Linked DNA regions of Homo sapiens. The protein of the gene in region 1 interacts with the protein of each later gene in a pairwise test. Each region holds a gene or a part of one and is shown on either strand. Other genes may lie near its edges.

Region 1 (6,921 bases):
TCACTCTATTGCCCAGGCTGGAGTGTAGTTGTGCGATCTCGGCTCACGGCAACCTCTGCCTCCCGGGTTCAAGTGATTCCCCCACCTCAGCCTCCCGAGTAGCTGGGACTACAGGCACACACCACCATGCCTGGCTATTTTTTGTATTTTTAGTAGACAGGATTTTGCCATGTTGGCCAGGCTGGTTTCGAACTCTTGGCCTCAAGTGATCTGCCCTCCTGGGCCTCCCAAAGTGCTGGGATTACAGGTGTGAGCCACTGCACCCGGCCTTCCTCCATAATTGAACACAGTCGCCCAGCTTAAGCCTCCAAGGGTCCAGTTCCAGGTCAAGATTTGCTGCTTTTTTTGTTTTGTTTTGTTTTGTTTCGTTTTGGTTTTGAGACAGAGTCTTGCTCTGTCACCCAGGCTGGAGTGCAGTGGCATAATCTTGGCTCACTGCAACCTCTGCCTCCTGGGTTCAAGTGATTTTCCTGCCTCAGCCTCCCAAATAGCTGGGATTACAGGTACCCGCCACCACGCCCAGCTAATTTTTGTATTTTTAGTAGAGATGAGGTTTCCATGTTAGCCAGGCTGGTCTCGAATTCCTGACCTCAGGTGATCCACCTACTTTGGTCTCGTAAAGTGCTGGGGTTACAAGAGTGAGCCACCGCGCCTGGCTGATGGGGTCTCACTATGTTGCCCAGCATGGCCTCGAAATCCTGGCCTCAAGTGATCCTCCTGCCTTGGCTTCCCAAGTGCCGAGATTACAGGCATGAGCCACTGTGCCCAGTCAATGAGCTTTTAATGTACATAATGTGGCTGAAGTGATGTGGGACTTTCAGGCTAGATCATAAAAAGATACAACTTCCACCTGGCTCTCAGCTCTTGGAAGGTGCTCGGGAGGCCAGCTCCCATGCTGGGAGTACACTCATGCCACTCAAGTATACTGGGAGGAATCGAGGCATCCCGCCAATCATAGCACCCATCTGCATGCCCTGAGAGTGAGCCACCTTGGAAGCAGATTCGCCAGCCCCCGTCAAACCTTCAGATGACTGAAGCCCTGACCAACTCCTTAACTGCAACCTTCTGAGAGGCCCTGAGCCAGAACAGCCCAGCAGCAAAGCCATTTCTCAAGTCCTAAGCTACAAAGACCACATGAAATCATAAGGATGGACCAGGTGCAGTGACTCACACCTGAAATCCCAGCATTTTGGGAGGCCAAGGCAACAGGATCACTTAAGCCCAGGGGTTCAAGACCAGCCTGGGCAACATAGTGAGACCCCCCCGCCCCCAGCTCTACAAAAAAGTATAAAAATTAGCCGGGAGTGGTGGCACATGCATGTAGTCCCAACTACTCGGGAGGCTGAGGCAGGAGAATTGCCTGAACCCGGGAGGCAGAGGTTGCAGCGAGCCGAGATCGTGCCACTGCACTGCAACCTGGGTGACAGAGCAAGACTCTGTCTCAAAACAAAAACAAAACCCAAACAAAACAACAACAAAATAACAAACAAATTAGCCGGATGTGGTGGCACATACCTGCAGTCCCAGCTACTCAGAAGGCCAAGGCCGGAGGATTGCTTGAGCTCAGGAGGTTGAGGCTGCAGCGGAGCTATGATTGTGCCACTGCACGCCAGCCTGGGTGACAGAGTGAGACCCCGTCTCTTAAAACAAATTTAAAAAAATGCTAGCTCTACGAGGGCAGGGATCTTTGTTTTGTTTGCTGTCATGTCCACAGTGCCTGGAACAGCATTGGGAACAGAGTACACGCTCTATGTGGTTGCCACGGTGATTATAACCTAACAGACCTTTGGTCTGCATATTCTGCGCTAAAAAAAAAAATCAAAAAACAAAAAACCTACCAGATCTGATTTATGTCAGGGCTAGCTCAGACTCTTACCTGTTTCCTGCCCACTCAGTGCCCATCTCGGCCAGTGAATGGGACATAGCTATGACCTCCCTCTGCACTGGGCAAATAGATTAGTAACTGGCAACTATGACAGGCGATCCACTCCAAACCTCGCCACTTCCCTCAGGATAAAATCCCAGGTCTTCTGTGCAGTTTCCAGCCCCCATCCTGCCTAGGATTCCACCATTCAGCCACAAGGAATCATGAACTGCTTGTAGTTTGCAAATACAGTAGTCTCCAGAGTGGAGTACATACACCCTATAAACAAAGCTTTGGGGTTCAACTGGAAAAACTTTAGAATATCTAGATTTGGGGGGTTTTATTGTTTGTTTTTTAGTCTTTTAAAAATAACTTTTTCCTTTTCTTTTTTCTTTTTTTAAAGACAAGGTCTTGCTATGTTGCCCAGGCTGGTTTTGAACTCCTGACCTCCAGTGATTCTCCCACCTTGACCTCCCAAAGTGCTAGCATTACAGGTGTGAACCATCATGCCCAGCTCCATTTATCTATCAATATTTTATATAACAGTTAACAGAATATATTGATATAATTGTATTTGTATATAATTTATAAATAATATCCATCTTTGAGGCCAGGAGTTTGAGACCAGCCTGGGCAACATAGTGAGACCCCGTCTCTACAAAAAAAATAGAAAATTAACCAGGCATAGTGGCATATGCCAGTAGTCCCAGCTACTTAGCAGGCTGAGGCAGGAGGATCGTTTGAGCCCAGGAGTTAGAGGCTGCAGTGAGCCACCATCAAACCACTGCACTCCAGCCTGGGCAACAGAGCAAGATCTTGTCTCAAAAAATAAATAAATGAATAAATATCCATCTGGGGGTGTAACTTTAACACTTTTACCTATAGGGGTGTGCAATGGAGAAAAAAATTTGGAGTCGTTGAACACAATGCTATTTTGCTCCTCAGAGAGTATCCGGCAGTCTCTGGAGACGTTTTTGGTAGTCACAACAGGGAGAGTAGGGAACCACTGGCATCTAGTGGGTGGAGGCCAGGGATGGTGTTAAATGTCCCCCAATACACAGGACAGTCCCCCACACAAAGAACTAGGCCGCCCAAAGTGTCAAGAGTGCTGGGCTTGAGAAGCCATTGCCCAAAAACCCCAGACTTAGTCTTGCTTTGGGGGCTCTGCACGGCTGCCTCATCTCCCCACTCTATTCCTCCCCTAGCTAAGACCTCCAATTTCAGTGACTCTACAAAGCATCCCCTCCTCCAATGAAGTTGCCATCTCTGTGTCCCCAGGCTGGGCCAGAGCCCCACCACCTAAGGGCTCCCTGATGTGCCCTGTACTGGGTTAGAATTGTCCGTCCCACGGGGTTCTTAACCATTGCAGATTCCCTGGATCCCTGAGACAGCCGGATTCTACCGGGCTACTAGAGACCAAGAATCTGTATTTTTCTCAAGCACCGCTCCCCCCAACCACACACACACTGCCTGCCCCTATCAAGGGCACACAGCAGGTGGCCCAGTGACTAGTTGAACGCCTACTGCAAGCCAGGCGCTATTACGCGATCCACTCGGGAATCTTGGCACATACTCCACTCCATGGTGTAGACACCAGGATTCTCCCCATTTCACAGAGGGGTAAACTGAGGTTGAGAGAGGTGACCGTAGCTAGGACAGAGACTCAGGGCAGGAAAAGGGCCCAGGTCCTCATGAGCGCCAGATTCCCGGGGAAGGAGGGAGAACAGAGAGGAGGGTGATGAACTGGGGGAGCGCGCGCTGGGTGGGGGGGCGCGGGGCCTCGCCGCGGCCTTCTGATGCGGCCCCGCCCCCACGAGGGACGTGAAGACGCGGACCCCGCGCAGCGTGGGGACATGTGACCGACTGCAGAGGCCGCGCCGCCTCCCCCGTCCGAGGTCTGCGCGCTCCGCCGCAGGGTGCAGACCCGGGGCGCCCGCCTGGGTTTGGGGCGCAAGAGCAGAGGCGGAGCCAGGGCGGAGCCAGCGCGCCGGGTCCCCCCTGAATCGAAAGCGAAACAGGGGCCGGGGAGGAAGGGCGGAGCCGGCCCCGAGGCACCGCCCCCTGCCCTGCGCGGCTGCTGGACCGACGGGCGCACCCAGGTAGGGGGGCGGCTGAGCCGCGCAGTGCGGACCCTCGCGGGGAACTGCGCCGCCGCCACCATGTCTCAGGAAGGTGTGGAGGTAAGCGATGGCTACGGCTGGGCCGGGGTCAGCCGCGACAGACCCCGAGGAGCGGCCGGGAGGCGCGGAGGGGGCTTCGCAGTTCCTGGGGACCCCCATCCTAGAACCCCAGATCCTTACCCCTGCCTGGCGCTCGCCCCCCTTGAAAAGGAAAGTGACTCCCACGTTTCCCCAGAGCGAAATGAGGCCTCCCCGAGGAAAAGCGGGGGCTGCAGGGTCAAAGGTCAGAGGCCAGAGATAACCTGGCCGCCCCCCCACACCTTAGGCTGGGACGCTCGCCCCAGTCCGCGCCTTCCCCCAACGCCCTGTGGGGACTTTGGCTTTTTCCAGGAAATGCCGTAAAGGGATGAAAGGCGGGGGGGGGGCGGCGGAGGCCAAAACCAAGGGTCAAGTTCGGGCCGGGAGAACGGTGCCTAGAGATGGGGGAGGGATGATCCCGTTTCCCCTTCCCCCACCGGAACCCCCCTGTCTCCATCCCAGCTGGAGAAGAGCGTCCGGCGCCTCCGGGAGAAGTTTCATGGGAAGGTATCCTCCAAGAAGGCGGGGGCTCTGATGAGGAAATTCGGCAGCGACCACACGGGAGTGGGGCGCTCCATCGTGTACGGTGAGGCTGCAGGGGTCCCGGGCCTGGTGCGGGGACCGCGCGTGGGAGCGCCGAGGGGGCGTGGTCTAGGGAGAGGCGTTGAGATCACCTCCCCCGGAGGTCCCAGCCTTGGGGAGGCTCTGCGTCGCGGCTCTGGGTGGCCTGGAACTCCCACAGACCCTTCAAGGGCCCTTCCCTTATATGCACTCTCCCCCGCAGGGGTAAAGCAAAAAGATGGCCAAGAACTAAGTAACGATCTGGATGCCCAGGTAACCTATCCCCTCCCCTCGCAAAGGACCGGGTCACGGGAGGGAGAGCAAGAGGGGGGACCCGACCCGTTCATGGTGACTGACCCCCCTCTGAAACAGGAGGGACCAGGCATTGTCGGTCCATAACTCATCACCCAATCTCACTTTTTCACCTCTCCATCATTTGTCCGGCCAGGGAGCCTGCAAACAGTAGGCGCTCATTATGTGCTGATTGTATTCAATGGGGGAGAGAGCCATGAAACTAAGCAATGAAAGGAGCCAGGATTATTGCCATCATAGCGGGGGCGCAGAGGTCAGAGAAGGCTTACTGGAGGAGGAGGTACCAAGTCTTAAAGGATGGGGAGGAGTGAGCCCTGGGAGGGGAAAGGGAAAGAAAGGCAGGGGTCTTGGGGTGGGGGAGGGAATGGCATAAGCAAAGGCTGGGAGGTGGGGAAGGGTTGTTAGTGGCAGTCTCTAGAAAGGCTAGGATGAGCAGAGGATTGGGGAGGAGAGAGAGGCAGGGGAATGGAACCCTTGTGTTGAATGAATGAATGAATGAATGAATGAATGAATGAATGAATGGCTTTGAAGCACAGGTGCATCATGGCTACTTTGCTTCTTTGACAGCTTTGGTGATGGGAACGCTGTGGATTTAGCCTGCCTGAAAGGCTTAGTGTAGGGCTGTTAAAGAGTATAATAGGCCAGGCGCGGTGGCTCACGCCTGCAATCCCAACATTTTGGGAGGCCGAGGCGGGCGGATCACCTGAGGTCGGGAGTTTGAGACCAGCCTGACCAACATGGAGAAACCCGTCTCTACTAAAAAATACAAAATTAGCTGGGCATGGTGGCGCATGCCTGTAATCCCAGCTACTCGGGAGGCTGAGGCAGGAGAATCACTTGAACCCAGGAGGCGGAGGTTGCAGTGAGCTGAGATCACACCATTGCACTCCAGCCTGGGCAACAAGAGCGAAACTCTGTCTCAAAAAAAAAAAAAAAAAAAAAATGCCGGGCGCGGTGGCTCACGCCTGTAATCCCAGCACTTTGGGAGGCCAAGGCGGGCGGATCATGAGGTCAGGAGATCGAGACCATCCTGGCTAACATGGTGAAACCCCATCTATACTAAAAATACGAAAAAAAAAATTAGCCAGTTGTGCTGGCAGGCCCCTGTAGTCCCAGCTACTCAGGAGGCTGAGGCAGGAGAATGGCGTGAACCCGGGAGGCGGAGCTTGCAGTGAGCCGAGATCGCACCACTGCACTCCAGCCTGGGCAACAGAGCGATTCTCCGTCTCAAACAAACAAAAACAAACAAAACCAGAGTATAACAAAACATGTATCATAGTCTACATTTATACATATAAAAGTATGATAAAAATGATAGCAGAGGGGCCAGGTGTGGTGGCTCACGCCTGTAATTCCAGCACTTTGGGAGGTTGAGGCGGGCAGATCACTTGAGGTCAGGAGTTCGAGATTAGCCTGGCCAACACGGTGAAACCCCTTCTCTATTAAAAATACAAAAAATTAGCTGGGCGTGGCAGTGCATGCTTGTAATCCCAGCTACTTGGCAGGCTAAGGCAGAAGAATCACTTGAACCTGGGAGGCAGAGGTTGCAGTCAGCCAAGATTGTGCCATTGCACTCTAGCCTGGGAGACAAGAGCGAAACTCCGTCTCAAAAATATAATAATAATAATAATAATAATAATAATAATAATAATATTAGCAGAGAGTAGCATTCATTGAGTACTTCCCACATGGCAAGATTCCAGGAATTTATTTATTTCATCACTGCAGTGACCCCAGGAGACAGGTCCTATTATTTATCCCCATTTCACAGACAAAGAAACTGAGGCCGAAGTCACTTGCCAGCAAGCAGGGGCAGCTGCGATTTGAACCCTGGCCACCTGGAGTCAGAGCCTGGGCTCTAACATGCCTGTCAGTGGGAACCCAGGGGGCAGGGAGTGGCTTGCCCAAGTCCCCACAGCTGGAAGTGATACAGCTGGGATTTGAACCCACATCTCTCTCCCACTTAGCCGAGCACAACGTGGCCTC
Region 2 (7,030 bases), on another chromosome or scaffold:
GGATTACAGGCATGAGCCACTGCGCCCGGCTTTTTTTTTTTTTTTTTTTTTTTTTTTGGAGATACGGTCTTGCCGTGTCACCTAGGCTAGAGTGCAGTGGTGCTATCTCGGCTCACTTCAGCGTCAACTTCCCAGCCTCTAGCCATCCTCCCTCCTCAGCCTCCAAAGTAGCTGAGACTGTAGTCCTGTGCCACCATGCCCAGCTGATGTTTGTATTTCGTGTAGAGACAGGGTTTTGCCGTGTTGCCTAGGCTGGTTTGGAACTCCTCAGTTCAAGTGCTCCACCAACCCTCAGCCTCCCAAAATACTGGGATTACAGACGAGTGCTGAAATTATTTTTAGTTTTTTAGGTTAACTCATTTGACATAAGAAGTACGAATAGATAGCCAGAGAGCAAACAAAGATAGCTAGAGCAATCATGTGAAATGGCAACTGTGTGGATGTTGAAATATTGATCATTATTTCTTTGGCTGTTTATGGTAGAGAAAGGCATTTGAAGAAGAAAGAGCCAGTTGGTTAAAGCAGCAGTTTCTAAATATGACTACCTTTGACCACCAGAACTCAGAAAATGTGAAACTTTTCAGTGCCTTCTCAGGAAGTGAGTACTTTATAAACTCTTTAATTTGAACATGCATATAAATAAAATTATTTACATATTACAAAATACTACATATTATTAATACAAAACTTTGGAAATCACCAATTAGAGCTCTCTAATTATAACTAAAAGTCAACTTTTTTTTGTTTGTTTTTGAGACGGAGTCTTGCTCTGTCGCCCAGGTTGGAGTGCAGTGACGTGACCTTGGCTGACTGCAACCTCTGCCTCCCAGCTTCACGCGATTATCTTGTCTCAGCCTCCTGAGTAGCTGGGATTACAGGCATGTGCCACCACGCCTGGCTAATTTTTGTATTTTTAGTAGAGACGGGTTTTTACCATATTGGCCAGGCTGTTCTTGAACTCCTGACCTCAGGTGATCCACCCATCTCAGCCTCCCAAAGTGCTGGGATTAGGCATGAGCCACTGCGCCTGGCCTAAAAATCAACTTTAATATTTTATTTACTGTAGTGAAAGTGAGGATGAGAGGGGGACTGTGCATGCCCAAAGTAACTTTTGTTGTGAGTTTGTAATAATGCGAAGTTTTTGAAAATTTACATTGAGAATTTCTTTTTTCAAGATGTAGTCTTGCTCTGTCACCCAGGCTGGAGTGCATCTCGGCTCTCTGCAGCCTCAGCGTCCTGGGCTCAGGCAATCCTCCTTGCCTCAGCCTCCTGAGTAGCTGAGACTATAGGCACACACCACCATACCCAGATAATTTTAAAAACTTTTTTGTAGAGACAAGCCCTCGCTATACTACCCAGGCTGGTCTCAAACTCCTGGCTTAAGCAGTCATTCCGCCTCACCTTCCCAAAGTGCTAGGATTACAGGTGTGAGCCACCCCACCCAGCCTAGAAATATTTTTAAAACTAGATCCTTTTGGCTGGGCACGGTGGCTCACGCCTGTAATCCCAGCACTTTGGGAGGCCGAGGCAGGTGGATCACGAAGTCAGGAGATCGAGACCATCCTGGCTAACACAGTGAAACCCCGTCTGTACTAAAAATACAAAAAAATTAGCCAGGCATGGTGGCGGGCCCCTGTAGTCCCAGCTACTCGGGAGGCTGAGGAAGGAGAATGGCGTGAACCCAGGAGGTGGAGCTTGCAGTGAGGCAAGATCGCATCACTGCACTCCAGCCTGGGTGACAGAGCAAGACTCCATCTCAAAAAAAAAAAAGATCCTTTTAAACATGGGTGGACTATGCAACAAAGATAAGCAAGATTAATGATAATTAATTTGAATTTGTTCCATCTCTTTCCTCACTCAGAACCGCAGATGAATCATCCTGATGATTTACCTTCACTATATTTAATGCCTCACCATATGTACTGCCTTTTTCTCTTACTTGTTTTACAACAGGTTCTGATTGGGACAATCTTATAGTGCACTCGAGGCAGCCGCAAAAGAAGCCTCACAGTGTGTCTAATGGGTCTCCAGTTTGCATGTCTAAACTTACTAAATCTCTTCCTGCTTCACCTTCCACTTCAGACTTTTGCCAGACACGTTCCTGCATATCTGAACATAGGTATTTGTCTATAGGTGATCTTTTCACGTGTTTCTAAAAATTGCTAAAGTTGCACTGCTAAGGGAAAGGTGGCATGTCTGTAGTATTAGCAACAATAGAGATTTTGGAGAGGAATTTAGTAGATGATTTATTCATTCTACAAATATTGAGTGTCCAGTATATATAGACACTGTGCTAGATGCTGGAAATACACTAGTGAACAGGTAGATCTGTTGTCTTCTTGGAGGTAAATCATATGATGTGTGTCTTTTTATTTCACATTTAAGATACAATTTAGAATGTAGTCTTAATTATAGGAGTTAATATTTTAAGCACTTTAATTGTATTAAATGGAAGGATATTGTTTTGACAGTTTTTGTAGAGTACATATCTTAACACTTTTTTCCGGCATGCCCATTTTATTGTTGTTGAAGGGCAAAGAACTGAGAAAAGCCTGTTCCTGTTGAGTGAAAAAGATTTGTGCCCAAGGATGACAGTGTAAAAAAACATGGCTCTCCACCCTGGGAAACCCATATGTTGCTCTTAATTGCTACATTTTGGTGTTTTCCTGTATCTCAAGTTATTATATCATTTTCTAAGATAAGATCAATACTCTGCTTCAGTGCCAATTCCAAGATTAGTTTTAAACGAAGAAGAGGAAGCAGGTAGAACATTCCTAGTAAGACAGAGAGGAATAGAAAAGATCAGAGGGGTAAGTTGGAAAGTATGGTGGTAATCTCTTTGCTCTTAATTAAAAGTAGGAGATAATGGCCTTGGAAAACAGTCAGAGCTGAAGCAAACTCGGCCTGTGTTAGAGACTGGAGTGGAACTAAGTGTCGAAGAAGCCAGCTGGCCCTTGGGCCAAGAATTATGAAATAGATGGAGTTTAAAACAAGAAAGGAAGCTTTTAAAAGAAGGAGGAGAACACACTATAAGTTGTAGTTGACTTTTAAGAGGTGGGGGGATTAGGACTCCAAGTAAATGTTAGAGGGGATGAAAAAGAGCTAGGTAAGAGCACTCTAGCCAAGTGTAGGAACCCTGAGGGTGGGACACACCTCATACATTTGCAATGGTGACCAAGACCTAGAGGTGTGAGATGAGGATGGAGAGATGTAAAAGTTCAAATATACAGAGAGGATAAGATCGTGAACCCACGTGTACCTATGACTCAGGTTCAGCAATTATTAACTCTGATCAATATTGTTCATATATAATCCCACTCTGCTTGCTCTCTCCACCCCAGCCCCAACACATCTGGGATTTCATTTACAGAATATTTTAGTGTGCATTTGCAGGTCAAATATTGTTCTAAGGGGAATAGAAAAAACACTAGTTTTAAGCAAGAGAGTGAAAAAAAGTCTTAAGTTTTAAAAAGATTACTGTTTTATAATATTGAAAACAGATTGTAGGAGTCTGTAATATAAACCAGGAAATCCAGTTAGGAGGCACTATTGGAGTGGAAACGAAAGACAATGGTAATTGGACTAGGGTCATAATATGAAGGAAGAAATGCTTGGATTTGGGATCTATTTTGAAGTTAGACCAGTAGATGAGTTGAATATGGGAAGTGAAAGTTTATTTATTTTACAATCAAAAGATAATGTGTAAGCTTATAGTATTTTCTTACATAGAATGTTATTCAAACTTCTAAATTTGACCAGTCAGAACTATCTGTATAGATATAGACACAAATTCTAGCCACCATTCACAAATAATGCATTTTATATCTAAGAGATAGCATAACATAGTTGTCTCAATTGTTTTTATATATTTTAAATATTTAGCTTTTTACATCATTTTTAGTTGTGAAATATTTGACATAAACATTTCTTGAAGACATTGTTTTATGTTTAATAAAGTTCAGCATTTAGTACCTAAATCATAGGGTGTTGCAAGTTAAATGTTAATGTATGTAAAGCACTTAAAAACATTTAGTGACAGACTATAAAAATAAAAATATATGTAAACAAATATAAACATGCTTTTTTTGTTTCTGAGTGCTCCACTAAACAACATCCGTGGCATAGAAACAATTTTGGAGCTTAAAGAAATTCAAGGTATTCATTGTTAACTAGCCTCTAAGAATAAAACAAACAGAAAAAAGTTTTATAACTAATAGAGAAGCTGTGCAGCCTGACTTGGTTCTTCACATTTTAAATTATTTGATAAACTTGGTTCTCTTGCTCCTGAAGCATTTTGGATCTCGGTTTATATTAATATTGCAACAAAATAATTAGGAGTATTTGTAGCTAATTTCTACAACATCCTCATTGTTCCTTCACTGTAGAATGGAATTTTATATAAAGGCTGTGCCTTAGATTCCAGGCAAGGAGACTTGTGCGTAAGTTACCTAAAAAACTTAGTTTGATCATTTGTACAGGGATTCTGATGACCGAATTACTATAAGTATTGGTAAATAAATTTATAGTAATTTGGTCATCAGAATCCCTTGTACAAATGATTAAACTAGGCATGCACTACTACTCCCAGCTAATTTTTTGTAGAGACAGGGTTTCACCATGTTACTCAGGCTAGTCCTGAATTCCTGGGCTCAAGCAGTTCGGCTGCCTCAGCCTCCCAAAGTGCTAGGATTACAAGTGTGAGCTACTGCTCCCAGCCGTTTTTTTTTTCCAAGTAAAATTTTAAATTATATTTTTGGCCTAGATTTTTAGAATTAAAAGGAACTTATTTTTTTTGAAGAGTGCCACATTATGAGGTTAAAGTACAAAAGAAGGAGAGGATAGTCACTAAGATCTGCCTTTCTTTTCCCAACAGTTCAATCAATGTACTGAATATAACTGCTGAAGAAATTAAACCAAATCAGGTTGGAGGAGAATGTACAAATCAAAAATGGAGTGTGGCATCAAGACCTGGATCACAGGAAGGTTGCTATAGTGGATGCTCCTTGAGCTACACAAATTCTCATGTAGAAAAAGATGACTTACCTTAGACATGTGGACTGGAATTTTTTTCATTAATGTGTTCATCAAGTTTCACATCTAAGTTGAAACAGGGTGTGTCATAAAGTCAGTTATCTCTAATAACTTAAGATGGTCTGAGTTGTTTGTTTGGACTTCCCTGTCTTCCCCCAAAGAGTTGAAATCTTAAATCTATTTAAAAGGATATAAAAGCTTTGGATATGTATTTTTAGTAACAGAAGCATCTGGTTCTGTGAATAAAGGAATGTATAGATGTTTGGATGGAAACAAAAGCACTAGACTGAGTTTCCTCTTATAGGTATTAAAAATAGCACTTTTAGGAAACTGATTATTGTAAATGTTTAATTTTGTCTCAAATATAGTTGGCATTGGAAGTTTAGCCTTTACTTGAATGTATACTGTAGATTTTTAACAAAGCGAGTTCTATATTTATTATGTTTAGTGTGGTTTGAAATTACCTCTTTCATATGTTTTAAATAAAGTGAAATTTATGTATGTTTTGTACATAGATACACATGATTATGTTAAGAGGCTTTAAGATTTAAAAGTTTCACACAACCATAAGTATAGTATTTCATGCCAGTAAAATTTTTTTAGTGGTATTCTGTTTACAGATGTATTAGGACCATTGATGCATTACATTTAAGAATTCTCTTTAATACATCTGGGCAATAAATATTGAAAGGTATTCCATGAAGCTGAGTTCTTTAGATAATCAACACTACTAACATTACATTTTTGAGATTTTTATGACATTAGATTTTTATTTTGTATATGTAGAATATTATAATTTTTAAAAGGACTATTGATGATAGAAGAATAGGGGCAAGACGACAAAAGTACCTTTGAATAAAACAATTTAAGAAATTGGTTTAAGATATTGGATGATAGAAGATATTTAAGATATCTAGATGGTGATATTTTCCTTACAAGATGGGTACCAGTATAGTAATATCTGTATACTAACTAGGGCTTTGTATTGTCAATAATTTTTTAATAATTTTTTAATGAGGTATTTACCACTGAAGAAATATGATAATATAAAACCATCAAATTTTATAATTGAGATGATACTCTGGAAAAACATGTCATTTCATTTTCAGAAAACTCTTAAGCTCTCTTCAGTCTCTGTAATGTTTCTGATTGCATGTTTCTTCATGAAAAGTATGTTGTTGTTTTGATAGTAATAATAATAAATGTAGGCTCAGCTCTTTCCCAGGATTTTCATCAAAAAGCTTTAAGTGCCTAACCCTGCTTGTCTCTGTACATAGAAGCCTGCACAGATCCAACCCTTGCTAGGTATCATAGTTTAGGCCCATTTACCTTCCCCTGTACTGGCAGTTCAGCCGCTTACATGCACTCACCCTGTTTGTGGCTATTTTAAATTCATATTATTAAAAAACAAAAAAAACCCACCTATTTGTGTTGTCCATTCACTATACGTAACTATGTAACTCTTTGGAGTTGCATAGCAGCAGCCATTTTTTCAGGGCTGATAGGATATCATTAAGAGTGTCTTATGAGACATTAGTGGATATACTCATAGTAACCATATTTATAGTTTTAAAGAGCTAGCTCTTGAGCATTAGTCACTACCTTCAGCTTGATGCATGGTCACTTCTTTACTATTTAAAATACTACACATTGTACAAAATATCGAAGACACTACCATATGCTAAAGGAAGAAATCTAGCTGGGATATAGGATTTTTGTTGTTTTTGTTTTTGTTTGTTTTGCTATTTAGCAATAACATGGTCAAAAAGGCAATCAGAAATTTTAAATACAGTTAATGGATACATTTGGCAACAATTTTCCCCCGAGGGTTTTCCATGGTGTACTTTGCAAGAAATAAGCACTCTAATTTTTAAAGTAAATCTCTTATTTTAGCAAATATTATATTTCATGACAATGGAGTTCTAGAAAGCAGCATCTGTTTTTTGTTGCGTGTTTCCATTTTAAAGTGAGTTGAGTTCTCAAATTGGAAAGAAAGATT
Region 3 (7,030 bases), on another chromosome or scaffold:
AAATATCATTACTGTTTTAGTCTGTCTTTAAGAAATGCAGCCTAAAATTGGCCAACTCAGTTGTCTCTCAAAACAGTGAGATAAACCTATTCATTTTATTTCCAGCAAGATTTTATTTTCTTTAGTTTTTAAGTTTTGTATATTTTTTAGAGATAGGATCTCATTGTCACCCAGGCTGGAGTACAGTGGCTCAATCATAGCTCACTGCAGCCTTGAATTTCTGGGCCCAAGTGATCCTCCTGCCTCAGCCACCCAAGTAGCTGGGACTACAGGCACGTGTCACCATACTTGGCTAATTTTTAAACTTTTTTTTTTTTTTATACAGACAGGGTGTCACTATGTTGCCCAGGCTGGTCTTGAACTCCTGGCCTCAGGCAATCTTCCCACCTTGGCTTTCCAAAGTGTTGGGATTACAGACGTGAGCCACCATGCCCAGCTCCAGCATGTTTTTAAATGCCGTCATTGACCCTGGTAATTCTTTGGAGCTTCATATGTCATATGGCTTGATTGCTGCTTGTAAAGTCACCTTCTAAGCCAGTGTTTTGGTAGAGTAATGAAGGTCTCAGTCATAAGATTATTTTATGTCATGTGATCAATTGTAATTCTCAGCCATCAACATAGTGTAATTTAATAATGATAACTTAGCATAGTGTATTGCTGCCTCTTTAAATGCAGTAGTGGTATTGGTTATGTATGTTAAACAGTTAACTGCGTGTGTGTGTGTGTGTGTGTATGTGCATGTGTGTTCACATATGTGTGCATAGAAAGTGGTAGTGTGACTTCCAGCTGTCCAGATATACAAATGGGCTTAAGAGTTCTGCCAAAGTAACCCACAGATAAAAAATACTTTGAAACCACTATACTAATCCAATGTATTTTCATGATTCAGCTTTCTCATGACAATTTATGGTGTCATTTTAAACTTATGATGCCTCGCAGGTCAAGGATTTCTTTGAGAACCTCCATATATATTTTATGGAATGCAGACAGGCTTCATCAAGGTGTTAGAGCTACTTTTTCACATAAAAGCTTAGAGGATAAAAAAAGAATTGGATGAAGTTTACTTCAAAAATATTACTTTTTTTTTCTCTTAGAAAATGTTTTTTTTGAGTGGGAAGCCAAGTCAGAAGGCCCTACATGATCCTGGAACTGGAGTGAAGGAACTTGCTGCTCTTAGTCTTCTTTCTGTCTTTTGTCTACTGAACTTCCCCCATGATCTTGGCACTCTCTTGAGCCGATTGCCCTACTCATAGGAAATACAAAAGCTTCAAGTCAAGAAGACATTTGCATTGCTGAGAAAGAATGTGAGAAGTTAAACATCCTGTTTAACTTGGTTCCCTTAGTCACTTTGTGAGGCAAATCCATATTTCTCTGAAACAGTTAATACTGAATAGATCAAACATTATTTTTTAAGAAACATCTGTATTCAAAGAGAGACCTGTGCTTTCTCCCAGAATACGTGAGATCTTGTATAAAAGCAGTGAATGGGCCGAGTGTGGTGGCTCATGCCTGTAATCCCAGTACTTTGGAAGGCCAAGGCAGGTGGATCACCTGAGGTCAGGAGTTCGAGACCAGACTAGCCAACATGGTGAAACCCTGTCTCTACTAAAAATACAAAAATTAGCTGGACACAGTGGCACGCACCTGTAATCCCAGCTACTTGGAAGGCTGAGACATGAGAATCTCTTGAACCTGGAAGGCAGAGGTTGCAGTGAGCCGAGATTGTACCACTGCACTCCAGCCTGGGTGACAGAGCGAGATTCCATCCCAAAAAAATAAAACAACAACAACAACAAAAAACAGTGAAATGAACTGGAATACCAAATCACTTGAGCTGTTTGGAATATTAAATTCTTGTTGTGGCTGGAATTTTATGGTTAATAAAAAAAAAAAAGATGGTCATGCTCATCGTGACAACTAGTGGTTTGGACATGTTGAAAGTCCAAACTACCATGGGTGTGTTGATTACAGATATAACATAATAGTATCAGTTCATTCTAAATATATGATACAGCTAAAAAGAAATAGTCTGAGTTTCCACAAGCTTCACCCTCTTTAGAAAATTACCTTCTTACAAAAGTTGCAGTAGTGAGCAAACTCCTTCTCAAAACATGGCACACAATAATTGCCACTCTCTTTGGAGATCAAAGGCTTTGTCCCTATAGGTTGTCGGCAATTCTCACACACAAAACAGGTTTCATGCCAGTAGTTTCCCTTAAATTCCATTTTGCGGGAACCTGTACTCCAAAAGTAAGGCCATGTTAGTATAAGTCAAGCATAATTTTATTTTTTAAGCAAATACAGATCAAATTACTTAAAAACGTTTTAAGTTAAGATGATAAATGAATTGTCCTTTTAGAAAAATAGTATTTTTTCAGGTTCAAAAAAACCCATTCATCTGGAGAAAAAAAAATGGTTAATAAAGTTTAGCCATGATGATGGAGAATCACTCTTAGACTGAAAACTTTTTCAAGCTCTGCATAACCTATAATCTGGAGATGTAAAAGTACTTTTAATGGAGACTCCTAATGGTTTCACATGGTTTGGATAAATTGGGCCATAATAATCATTACAAGGGTATTAAAAATGCCCAGAGCACAACTACTGAGACTATACTGTGCAGTTATGGCCTTCTAGAAATTCTCTGAATCCATAATAAGAAAATGAGAGAGCAAGAGTGGCAGAGAATGAATTATGTTCTTATGCTGCTGACCATAGAGATTGAGAAGATCAAAATATAAAGAATTAGTCCTTGCCAAAAGTGGAATGATATACATGAACCCTGTCTTCCCTAAGAGAGAATAACAATAACCGATCCTCAAAACAGTTTGTGTCAAGCTACAAAATGGCAGTTGGCCCCAATCGCCTATGATGAATCACTCTTTCTGATGCCATTGATTGTGCCTAGGGCACTGTGTTTAATGTAGTGTTATTGGTATACATTTTGTCTTTATTTTATGGGTAAGATTCTGGTTTGAAATGTTTCTATGAATTAGACTATATGAAAATACACAGAACACTGTAATTTACCTGTTCAAGGATAATGAATGAATAATCTTTTTATTTCTAAAGTACACGGAAGAAGATTGAGAGAGTAAGAAAGATATCTTTCTCAAAACCAGGGTTTTGGGAGCTGCTGCACTCCTCATGTGCTGGGACTTAATGAAAAGCATCACAGCTTCAGTTAGAGACAGGAGCCCCCTTGAGACCCTACCAGGCATGATGGTCCTCTTGCAGTGGAAGCACTTGGAGGAGCACTCGTTAGAATAGCACTCCGTGCACAGCAGGCGCTCATCCTTGGCAGCAAAAGGCTTTTCCACCAAAGAGTGATTGCATTTGGTGCACTTGAAGCATCCTTCATGCCAGTGCCGGTCTTTGTAACAAAGATCCTTTGAGACAGTAAATAAAAGTTAATTAAATGTGGTTGTGACAATACAGGCCATTTTATGAAACAAAACTGAACACTCCTGGGACTCTCATGTCAGTAGGTTGTGCTAGTAGCGTGAGGGAAAGTTGTTACTGAAACTGTTACCCATAGAGAGGAGACTCTCTGGGGTAATTAAGAGCTAGAGCCCAGGGCTTTCTTGGTGGGTCACTTAAGGCAGCTGGGAAAAAACAAATACATTCTCTGCTGTGTCTTCAAAATTTGCCTATATTCTTTTTATAAACTATAATAGAGGTTTTTCATGGAATGATTTTTAAAAATTTTAGGGTGCAATGTTCTATTACTCTTTGAGATGTAACTAAACAGACAAAAAATAACATCACCTAAGTAAAACAAAGGCAGAAAGAGGGAAGAAAGAGACAGAGAGAGAGAGAGAGAGAGAGAGAAAGAGAGAGGAAAATAATCGGAGGATGGAAGGAAGAAAAGAAGAAAGAAAGAAAGAAAGAAAGAATAAGCATGTCGGAGGAAGGGGTGGTAGGTGTGAGAGGTATCAATAGGGTTTAGTAAGAAATGAAGCTGATTTTACATCAGAAAACAGATTTTGAATCCTTTCAACTTCAATTCTTTATGCATTTATTTATACCCTTGTCATTCCAGAAATAACAAACACACCCAGAAGGTTACTGAGAGCTTGGAAACAGCAGGAAAATTCTAGCTGTGTAACTTTGGACAAATAGCTTAACCCCTTTAATCTTTAGCATTCTCAGCTACCTTAGAAGATCATGTGAGGATTAAGCATATGTTGTATTTCATAGTGCTAAGTGTAGTGGCTGGAGCTTGACTGCTGGTAACTTTTAAGATCCTTATATATCCAGTAGCAGAGAAATAGTGTTGAAAGTCAACACTAAATGAAAAGAGGCACTCCAACCCACTTGTTTGCTGTTCATAGGCAGTAATTCTGTAAATTGAGGTGAGACTTACCTTAGAATCAGATTCAATTGGTTTTTTGCATTCCTCGCAATAGTTAGAAAATACACGATCATAACATGTAACACAGTATGGACTGTCATCCTTTAGTACATATTTCTTCCCAAGAAGTGATGCTGTGCAGTATTGACAGTAAAAGTGAGCAGTTGTCATTTTGGTTTGATCCTATGAATGACAAAGTGATTAATGTATATAAAAGCAGAATTTTGTTTATAGGATAAATGATGAAACCTTAATATAATGTGAGTGAAGCATTTGAATGAACTTATATTTTCTTAAGCAAAAATCCCCCAATTTAGGAAAGTATGCTTATAGTCATGGTGACATTTGGAGTGATTTAGGAAAGATTACTCTCCCATCTTGGCAGTTCCCTGTATGTTTTGCTAAAAAAAAATGCATAAAACCTGCATCTAGATTATGAAAAACATCTTGTGTTTATCATAAGCTAATGTGGAATTCAATGAGAATATGGTATCTGTTGAAACAGGATGGTTTTACCTCAAGGATATAAACTGTTGCTAGGGCTTTTAATAACTATCATCACTTACTTTCTTGCTGGAAAATTCTAGAGGCAGATTTTGATGGAAATAACAGTCTTTTTTACTCAAATATAAATTAATAATCAGTACATTGTCATTTTCTAGTTCATTCTTTTACTCCTCAAGTCTTTACTGAATACCTAATAAGGGCTCTGCACATTTACCCTGAGGTCTTCGTGTACTACATCCCCTCCTTGGCTGTGGCTTCCACCATCCCAAATGTGCTGATGACTCCAAAATCTCTGTTTTCTGCTAGCTTTAGATATCTTCATTTAAATGTCCTTTACCAAACTGGCCAAATAAAACTCCTCAGCAGGTAGGATTCTCAGACCAAGTGCTAGGTCTTTGTGACTATTGTGAACAATTGCCCAGATGCAGAAGTGCAGATAAAATCATCAGTGGTAGAAAACAACAATGGGTTCCTTCAGGCTTTAGGGCCAAAGTAACATGTATAGAGCATAAATAATAGCAGCAGCTATTCCATTATAGCTATGGATAAAATAGCTAGAATTCATCTGCAAGGCAAAATGCATTCTGTAAGATGAATAAAAAAGCTGATATGAAACATAAAGCCAGTGATAGATAAGGACTCTGATTGTTTTGTAAATTTGGAAAGCCATTAAGAAACAATGCACAGCCTGTAGTCCCAGCTACTCGGGAGGCTGAGGCAGAAGAATGGCGTGAACCCGGGAGGCGGAGCTTGCAGTGAGCCGAGATTGTGCCACTGCACTCCAGCCTGGGCGACAGAGCCAGACTCCGTCTCAAAAAAAAAAAAAAAAAAAAAAAAAAAAAAAAAAAAAAGAAACAACGCATATAGATTTCCAGGTTTTAATTAGGCATTGAACATGAATTCTTTGTTGTTACAAAAAAAAATTAGCACTGCTTTTCCTTGGAAAATGAGATTTGTCATCTCAGGGTTTACTGGAATATATTAGGAGCTTTGAATATTTTCTAATTCTCCCCCCACATAATTTTTCTTTTAATTTTAGCAAAATCAGAGGAGCAATTAACGATAATACAACAGAGTTTTTGATACTAGTTTGTACTGACTACATTTGAACTCTTATTCTCATGCGTTTTGCCTTATTCTAGTGATGAAATTCCCAGCAGAGAGCCTTGCTGAATGCACATGATTATTAATTCTGTACATAGCAGTTTTGCTATATTGTTCTTCACTAACAAGTAGAGAAAAGGCAGAGGATTTGGAATATGTGGGTCTTTTCCCAGGAAAGAGATGAAATGCAGACTAGAAAGTTCGCAATGGAACATGGCCAAAATTATCTAAAAGGAACATTGAATTCTCCATTTGATTAATTCCACAGAAATGTTCCTTCCTAGTGAATACAAACACACTCAGAGGGTTACCGAAGGCTTGGAAACAGCAGGAAAATAGATCTAATTCCCTTGAAAGGTTTAAAAATAAAAGTTGTATTCACATTTACAGCGATCAAGTGTTTGTCACTTTATAGAAATAAAATATGTACCTTTAACTCTCTTCACTTAATATGGAAAACGTCGTTTTCATTAATATTTATTTTAGTTTTAGATGTGTATAATAGCATCATGAAACACGGCCCCTCAGGGGTTAGGAACTGCAGTCTACTGCCATTTTGTGAGGCTTTTAGTGTATTATAAAATGAATATATAAAACATATAAAACCACAAAAGGGATTACCAAATTGATAATATTTCAATTGTTTATTTTAAATGACACTTTAAACATGACAACATCAAAATACCTGTAACTTATTTAGTGATCAGATCAGAAGTCTAAATATAAGACAAGACGGTCCTTCTCCCACCCCAGTCCTAATTACATAACAGGCCTGGATCCACAGAAAATGCCTTACAATATAGACCATATTTCTTAATTTTTTGTTTTGTTTTGTTTTTTGAGACAGAGTCCTGCTCTATTGCCCAGGCTGGAGTGCTGTGGTGTGATCTCGGCTCACTGCAACCTCTACTTCCCGGGTTCAAGCCATTCTCCTGCCTCAGCCTCCTGAGTAGCTGGGACTACAGGCTCATGCCACCGTGCCTGGCTAATTTTTGTATTTTTAGTAGATATGGGATTTTACCGTGTTGGCCAGGATGGTCTCAATCTCCTGACCTCAAGATCCGC
Region 4 (6,360 bases), on another chromosome or scaffold:
CACCTACCCTTACATGGCCAATGATCCTCAATAAAAGAAAAGCTCCCACATTTGCTTTCGACTTGGAAATATGTGTCTTTTTACCATTACTTAACTTTTTAATGCACTTTATGTCTTCTTTGGTGTCATATATAGGAAATTGCCATTTTGAGAGCTTGCTGCAGTTTATTGCATAGTGTAATGGAGTGCAGTAGCATGATCTTAGCTCACTGAAACCTCTGCCTCCTGGGTTCAAGCGATTCTCCTTCCTCAGCCTCCCAAGTAGCTGGGACTACAGGTGTGCACTACCACGCCCAGCTAATTTTTTTTTTTTTTTTTTGTATTTTTAGTAGAGACAGGGTTTCACCATGTTGCCCAGGCTGGTCTCAAACTCGTGAGCTCAGGTAATCCACTCACCTCAGCCTCCCAAAATGCTAGGATTACAGGTGTGAACCACTGCTCTTGGCCTCAAGTAGACATTCTTGAATTATAAGCAGTTAAACCAGGTGATGTACAAGTGAAAACAAAGACAATGGTTTCTTTGCCTAGTATATAATATTTATTAAGAAATGACAGAAGACATTGTATCACAGATATAACTGAAATATCCAGCAGGCAAGATCATTATGATCCAAAAACCAAGGGATGGATCAGATGTTAAAATGTGGAAAGTCCAGCCTACTTCTTAGAAGCTGAATGTTGGGTGATGAGCTTCCATTCTCTCTGGTGACTTGAGGAATGTCACTTGGCTATAATTTGGTGTCTTTGATGTTGCAAAAAATTTTAGGTAAACAAGATAAAATAGATTATAAAGCATGGAAACATTAGACTTGTGGATAGTTCTCATGGATAAATTCCACAACATGTCAGTAATTTTTAATCCTGCAGAAATATCAGAAATAGTATATCCCAAGCAAATTGATGATCAGCAGGTGGCTTTGTAGCATTTCTGTGTCCCCAGTGAAGGGTCAAGGTATTCATTGTAGAATGGAATCAGATAGAATTGTGAGCTCATATACTTAGTAGTCTCCATCACAAGCAATGCAAAGTCTGAGAACTTGTTAGTGGTCCAGAGGTGGTCAAGGGATGAACAGTTCAGAGACACTGTGACCTAGGCAATTGAAAATAAGCAAACTGGCTTTCAGCAAGTGGGCTCACAGCAGCAGACTGGGCGGCAGCAGGACTGTCCACAGTAGGACGGGCGGCAGCAGGAGGCCTGGGCATGGTGCAGTTGGCAGCAGGATGGGGGCGTGCAGCTCACCACACAGCAGGGGGGTAGGTAGGTGCCCTCCACACGACTGTCTGGGCGGCACCACCTGATACGGGTGCTCACAGCTCCACTGCTGCCCTCCTGGCCATAGCTGATGCCACCACCAATGCCACAGCCAGTTCCGCAGGAGCTGATCTGGCAGCAGCTTGGCTGGCAGCAGCTGGTCTCACAGCAGCTTGGCTGGCAGCAGCTGGTCTCACAGCAGCTTGGCTGGCAGCAACTGGAGCTGCAGGTCCCACTGGTTGAGAAGCTGGGAAATCCGCAGAAGCTAGTCTGGCAGCTGCGTGGCTGGCAGCAGCTGGTCTCACAGCAGCTTGGCTGGCAGCAGCTGGAGCCACAGGTCCCACTGATGGAGAAGCTGGGATATCCACAGAAGCTGGTCTGGCAGCAGGTCATGGTGTCAGAAGTTGGGTTAAGAGTTAGGTTGCTTGGAGGAGTTTCTGAGGTTTGGTGGTGACTTCCACGTTGGTCCTTTTATATATCTGAACCAGCTGCTGTTTACAAAATTGTTAACATATTTTCTTTGTTTTTGTTTAAATTTGTTACTCCGTGGATCTCTGATTGGCTTATGTTGAAATACTTGTGACACATTATGAGCAATAGTTTAGAAATTACTGTTTTATAGTTTCTTCTGGACTCCTCATATCAGTCCTTTGCTCTTTGGAATATGTTTGTGGTTTCCCATGTTCAAAGAGTACTTCCATTTTAGTCCAAATGAATGCTCTCATTTTACATAATAGTTATTCCACGTGACAATCTATCCATACCTCTAAGGCTAAGAGTAATAATTGTGCTGTTATATTTAACTATTATTTTTTCCTCCTAGATATATAGACTAAATTTTATTGAATTTTGGATATCTGGATATCTACTGAACTGAAGGAATACCTTTGGTCATACATAATTCGCAGATTTCACCTTTTTTTGTTCCAATGTCTTATTGAATTACCGATTATAGTTCCTTTGATTTCAACCAATTTGGAATGTGTGACTATTATTCCTGTTCCAGACCAGAAATCTGTTCTTGGGAACCAAACTGACATAGTATTTAGGAAGGTATCCAGCAGAGTCCTTAGTTTGTGGTAGAACCTTAATAAATGTTTACTGAATCTGATTCAATAAATGTTTATTGAATAGGTGGAGTAAAAGGCTTGATTCATGGATATCAATACCACTCAAACATGATTAAAGAGAACTTTCAAGCTGTAGTACTTCTCATGAAAGAGTCTTGTTATTTGCTGTAAAGAGACTAGGAAATGTGTTTTTTGGTTTATTTTATTTTATTTTTTGGATTTAGTAGTGGAACCGGGCTCGGGAAAAAATATCTAGGAGTTATGACACTTTGAAAAATGTACTGCCATCTACTTTATTCCTCTTGGAAATTGCATAATTTTGTGTGTAATCCATCATTGCTACCAATTAAATATAGAGGTAAGTTCTGGGAGCTTGTAAATAATGTGGAAAACGTGTTTCTTTCTATATTTGCATCCTATTGTATTTTGTGTATTACACTCTAATGCCTAATGAAGAATTTAAAAATTAAATGGTAAAATATGTTTTGTTTTGTTCTAGGTTGTGTTAATTTTTTTTTTTGAGACAGAGTCTTGCTTGTTGCCCAGGCTGGAGTGCAGTGGCGTGATCTTGGCTCACTGCAAGCTCTGCCTCCCAGGTTCACGCCATACTCCTGCCTCAGCCTCCCAAGTAGCTGGGACTGCAGGCACCCACGACCACACCTGACTAATTTTTTTTTTGTATTTTTAGTAAAGACTGGGTTTCACCATATTAGTCAGGATGGTCTCAATCTCCTGACCTCGTGATCCACCCATCTCAGCCTCCCAAAGTGCTGGGATTACAGGCGTAAGCCACCGTGTCCAGCGTGTTAACTTCTTAAGAGAATATCTTTTAAGTTGGGTTGCAAAGTGCAAAATATAATCGAGCTGTTTCAGATTTCTAACACTTCTGTCTGACAAATGGCAATGGTAGAACTCAGCGGGTGCTCTCTATAGCTGTTTCTTCTACTATCATTTAGACCAAAGATACACCTTATGCATACGTACATCAAATGAAGGTGAATAGTGGGAGTTGAAGCTTAGAGAGCAATTCAAGGATCAGTGGGAAGAATGTGAAAGGCTAAGGTGTAGAAATTAAACCTAAATTCTCTTGGAAAATAGGTAGTATCTAGTAGCTATTTTTAAATCTATTTAGAAGGTAATGCAATTTCTTTAGATTTTGGGGCATAAATGAAGGAGAACATTTAGTATATTAAATGGAAGGAGACAAAAGATGGTAGAATTACATTTAGATAGAAATCAATAGCTTTGATCAACCTTAACATTTTAGCTAAAGGTCAACCTTTATTGGTCTAGACCTAATCATAATAGATTAGAGCATGTAAATATTTGAACTATAAAAATTCTTTAATTCATGGAGCATTTTTAAGCTGATGGATTCAAGCATAATTTACTTTGTATTTAATCTTTCTGGTTTAGACTTTATGGTTATGCCTTGGTATTATTATCAAATTGCAAATCCACTCTTGAATACCAGCTACAAGAAGACATGTTTAAAGGTAGAAGGAGGACATAACTCAGTTTGCTTTGCACATTAAAACATTTTATTTGGATTAATCAGAGATATTCAAGGAAAAACCAGGTCTGAAGATGCATGAGCATCAAGAGAGAGTTGGGGGAGCAGAGATGTCACTGAAATGATGAACTATTCCATCCTGGTCCTCTGCTCAAGCAACGCAAGCTATCCAGAACACTGATTGATACATCTTTCAGTAAGTGAATTCGGCACATCCACAGTGTCCTAACTAGGAGTTTCATTATCTCTGAGCAGCTTAACAACATCATGGTACTTAGCATCCAAGTAAAATCGAACAGTTCTTCAGAAATCAGCACAATTTTGCTGTGCTTCCCCTTTCATTCTTAAGCGATCAGCAACCTGGCTTTTAGCAGGTGGGCTCACAGCAGTGGCAGCAGCAGGCTGGGCGGCAGCAGGACTGTCCACAGTAGGACGGGCGGCAGCAGGAGGCCTCGGCGTGGTGCAGCTGGCAGCAGGATGGGGGTGTGCAGCTTACCAGGTAGCAGGGGGGCAGGCAGGTGCCCTCCACGTGGCAATCTGGGTGGCACCACCTGATACGGGTGCTCACAGATCCACCGCTGCCCTCCTGGCCATAGCCAATGCCACCACCAATGCCACAGCCGGTTCCGCAGGAGCTGGTCTGGCAGCAGCTTGGCTGGCAGCAGCTAGTTTCACAGCAGCTTGGCTGGCAGCAGCTGGAGCCACAGGTCCCACTGGTGGAACAGCTGGCCATGGTGTCAGGAGTTGGGTTGAGAGCTGTGTTAAGAGAGGTTTCTGAGTTTGGGCTGTACCTTCTATATCTGTCCTTTGATATGTTCCCTAGAGCTGCATATTTACCCAACACCTTTTCTTGATGTCAATTTCAGTGTGAGTCTCTGGCTAATACCTGAGGTGTTTATAAAGTTATAAATAGCATTTCAATAGCCTTTTTCCATTGTACAATTAAGTCTCATTATGTTTCTTCTTTGCCCTCTGGGCGAAGTGAAGGCTCATCATGGAAGCCAAGCACCGAAGTGCCTCTTTATGCAAGTCACATGACAGACTAGCCTTGAGCCAAGTGTCGCCCTGGCACGTTTTGTCATAGTTGTCCTTTGATAACCTTTAGGCAGAATTTATCTTAACTGATCATTTTTCCTTAAATGGTCACTTAACTATGATCATGATTTTATAAACAATTTGTCCAGACTTGGAAAGACTAACATTAGTGTCATCAAAACATGAACTACAACCTGATGTATCAACTTTCAAACCAAGTATGCCTTTCTATGATCAATTTGTGCAAGTTATAGGATCCTCAGAGCTCTATCTAATATTCTTGCCTTCAGTAATAGTGAATGTACAAATTGCTAACTAAAATCTTTAATGACTTTTGCTTGTAGATTGTTTTCTGACTCTATTAAATTAAACATATGTGCTAGTAATGAGTACACATTGTAACAAGTCAAAGAGTACAGAGGTATATAAAGAAAAATTAGTGTCTTTTCCCTTCCTGGAAGATGCACACATCTCTTCCAAAACTAATGCTCTAGAGGTAATCAATATTAAGAATTTGGTGCACATTCTTTGACACCTTTATCCTTGCTTCTGCAAATATAAACCAGCATATATACATATATATCTTCTATTTCAGAAAAGTTTGGGTCTCCTACACATGTTTATAGTTACAAATTTTTAATTGTGGTAAAATATACATACCATAAAATTTATGAACCATTTACATTAACCATCTTAACCATTTGTAAATAGTCTTGTCACCCTTGTTGAAAATCATTTGACCACATTCACATTCAGAAGAAATGAAATTAGACCATTGTCTCACATTATATACAAAAACCAACTTAGAATGGATTAAAAGACTGAAATGTAAGAAAGACTCAAAATGATAAAACTATAAGAAGAAAACAGAGGAAACTCCATGACTTTTGCCTGGCCAATATTGTGATATTGTGAACATGAATCCAAAAGCATCAGCAAAAATAGACAAGTGGGATTACATCAAACTAAAAAGCTTCTGCACAGCCAATAAAACACTAAACTGAGTGAAGACGCAAACCGCTGAATGGGAGAAAATATTTATAAACCACATATCTGATAAAGGGTTAATATCCAAAGTATAGAGGAAACTCAAACAACTCAATACCTGTAGTAAGAAAACAAATAACGTAATTGAAAAATGGGCAAAAAATCTAAATAGACATTTCTCAAAAAAAATCTACAAATTGCCAACAGGTATATGAAAAATTTTCAAAATCACCAATCATCGGATAATGCAAATTGAAACCACAATGAGATATCGTCTCACACATATTAGATAGTTATTATCAAAAAGACAAAAGATAGCAAGTGTTGGAGAGGAAGTGGAGAAAAGAGAACTCTGGCACACTGTTGGTGGAAATGTAAATTAGTACAGCCATTATGGAAAACAATATGAAGGTTCATCAGAAAATTAAAAATAGAACTGTCATATAATCAAGCAATCCCACTTCTGTGTATATACCCGAAGGAAAGTAAATCAGTATTTTGAA

What was found.
Region 2: the proteins of SHFL (region 1) and SSX2IP interact in binary tests that used the Homo sapiens proteins (3 or more experiments, as listed by UniProt).
Region 3: the proteins of SHFL (region 1) and FHL5 interact in binary tests that used the Homo sapiens proteins (3 or more experiments, as listed by UniProt).
Region 4: the proteins of SHFL (region 1) and KRTAP1-5 interact in binary tests that used the Homo sapiens proteins (3 or more experiments, as listed by UniProt).

The regions. Positions count from the first base shown.
Region 1 is NC_000019.10:10,082,405-10,089,325, forward strand, and holds the start of SHFL (shiftless antiviral inhibitor of ribosomal frameshifting protein), read left to right. Parts: upstream 1-3,912; 5' UTR 3,913-4,023; coding exon 4,024-4,044; intron 4,045-4,524; coding exon 4,525-4,648; intron 4,649-4,846; coding exon 4,847-4,896; intron 4,897-6,706; coding exon of another isoform or gene 6,707-6,921.
Region 2 is NC_000001.11:84,645,451-84,652,480, reverse strand, and holds part of SSX2IP (afadin- and alpha-actinin-binding protein), read left to right. Parts: intron 1-483; coding exon 484-598; intron 599-1,953; coding exon 1,954-2,119; intron 2,120-4,873; coding exon 4,874-5,048; 3' UTR 5,049-7,030. UniProt on the Homo sapiens protein: Belongs to an adhesion system, which plays a role in the organization of homotypic, interneuronal and heterotypic cell-cell adherens junctions (AJs).
Region 3 is NC_000006.12:96,601,109-96,608,138, reverse strand, and holds part of FHL5 (four and a half LIM domains protein 5), read right to left. Parts: exon of another isoform or gene 6,987-7,030; intron 4,538-6,986; 5' UTR 4,526-4,537; coding exon 4,367-4,525; intron 3,390-4,366; coding exon 3,215-3,389; intron 2,238-3,214; coding exon 2,068-2,237; intron 1-2,067. UniProt on the Homo sapiens protein: May be involved in the regulation of spermatogenesis. Stimulates CREM transcriptional activity in a phosphorylation-independent manner.
Region 4 is NC_000017.11:41,025,511-41,031,870, forward strand, and holds KRTAP1-5 (keratin-associated protein 1-5), read right to left. Parts: upstream 1,699-6,360; 5' UTR 1,646-1,698; coding exon 1,121-1,645; 3' UTR 516-1,120; downstream 1-515. Other genes in the region: KRTAP1-4 (keratin-associated protein 1-4), read right to left, coding at 4,203-4,568. UniProt on the Homo sapiens protein: In the hair cortex, hair keratin intermediate filaments are embedded in an interfilamentous matrix, consisting of hair keratin-associated proteins (KRTAP), which are essential for the formation of a rigid and resistant hair shaft through their extensive disulfide bond cross-linking with abundant cysteine residues of hair keratins.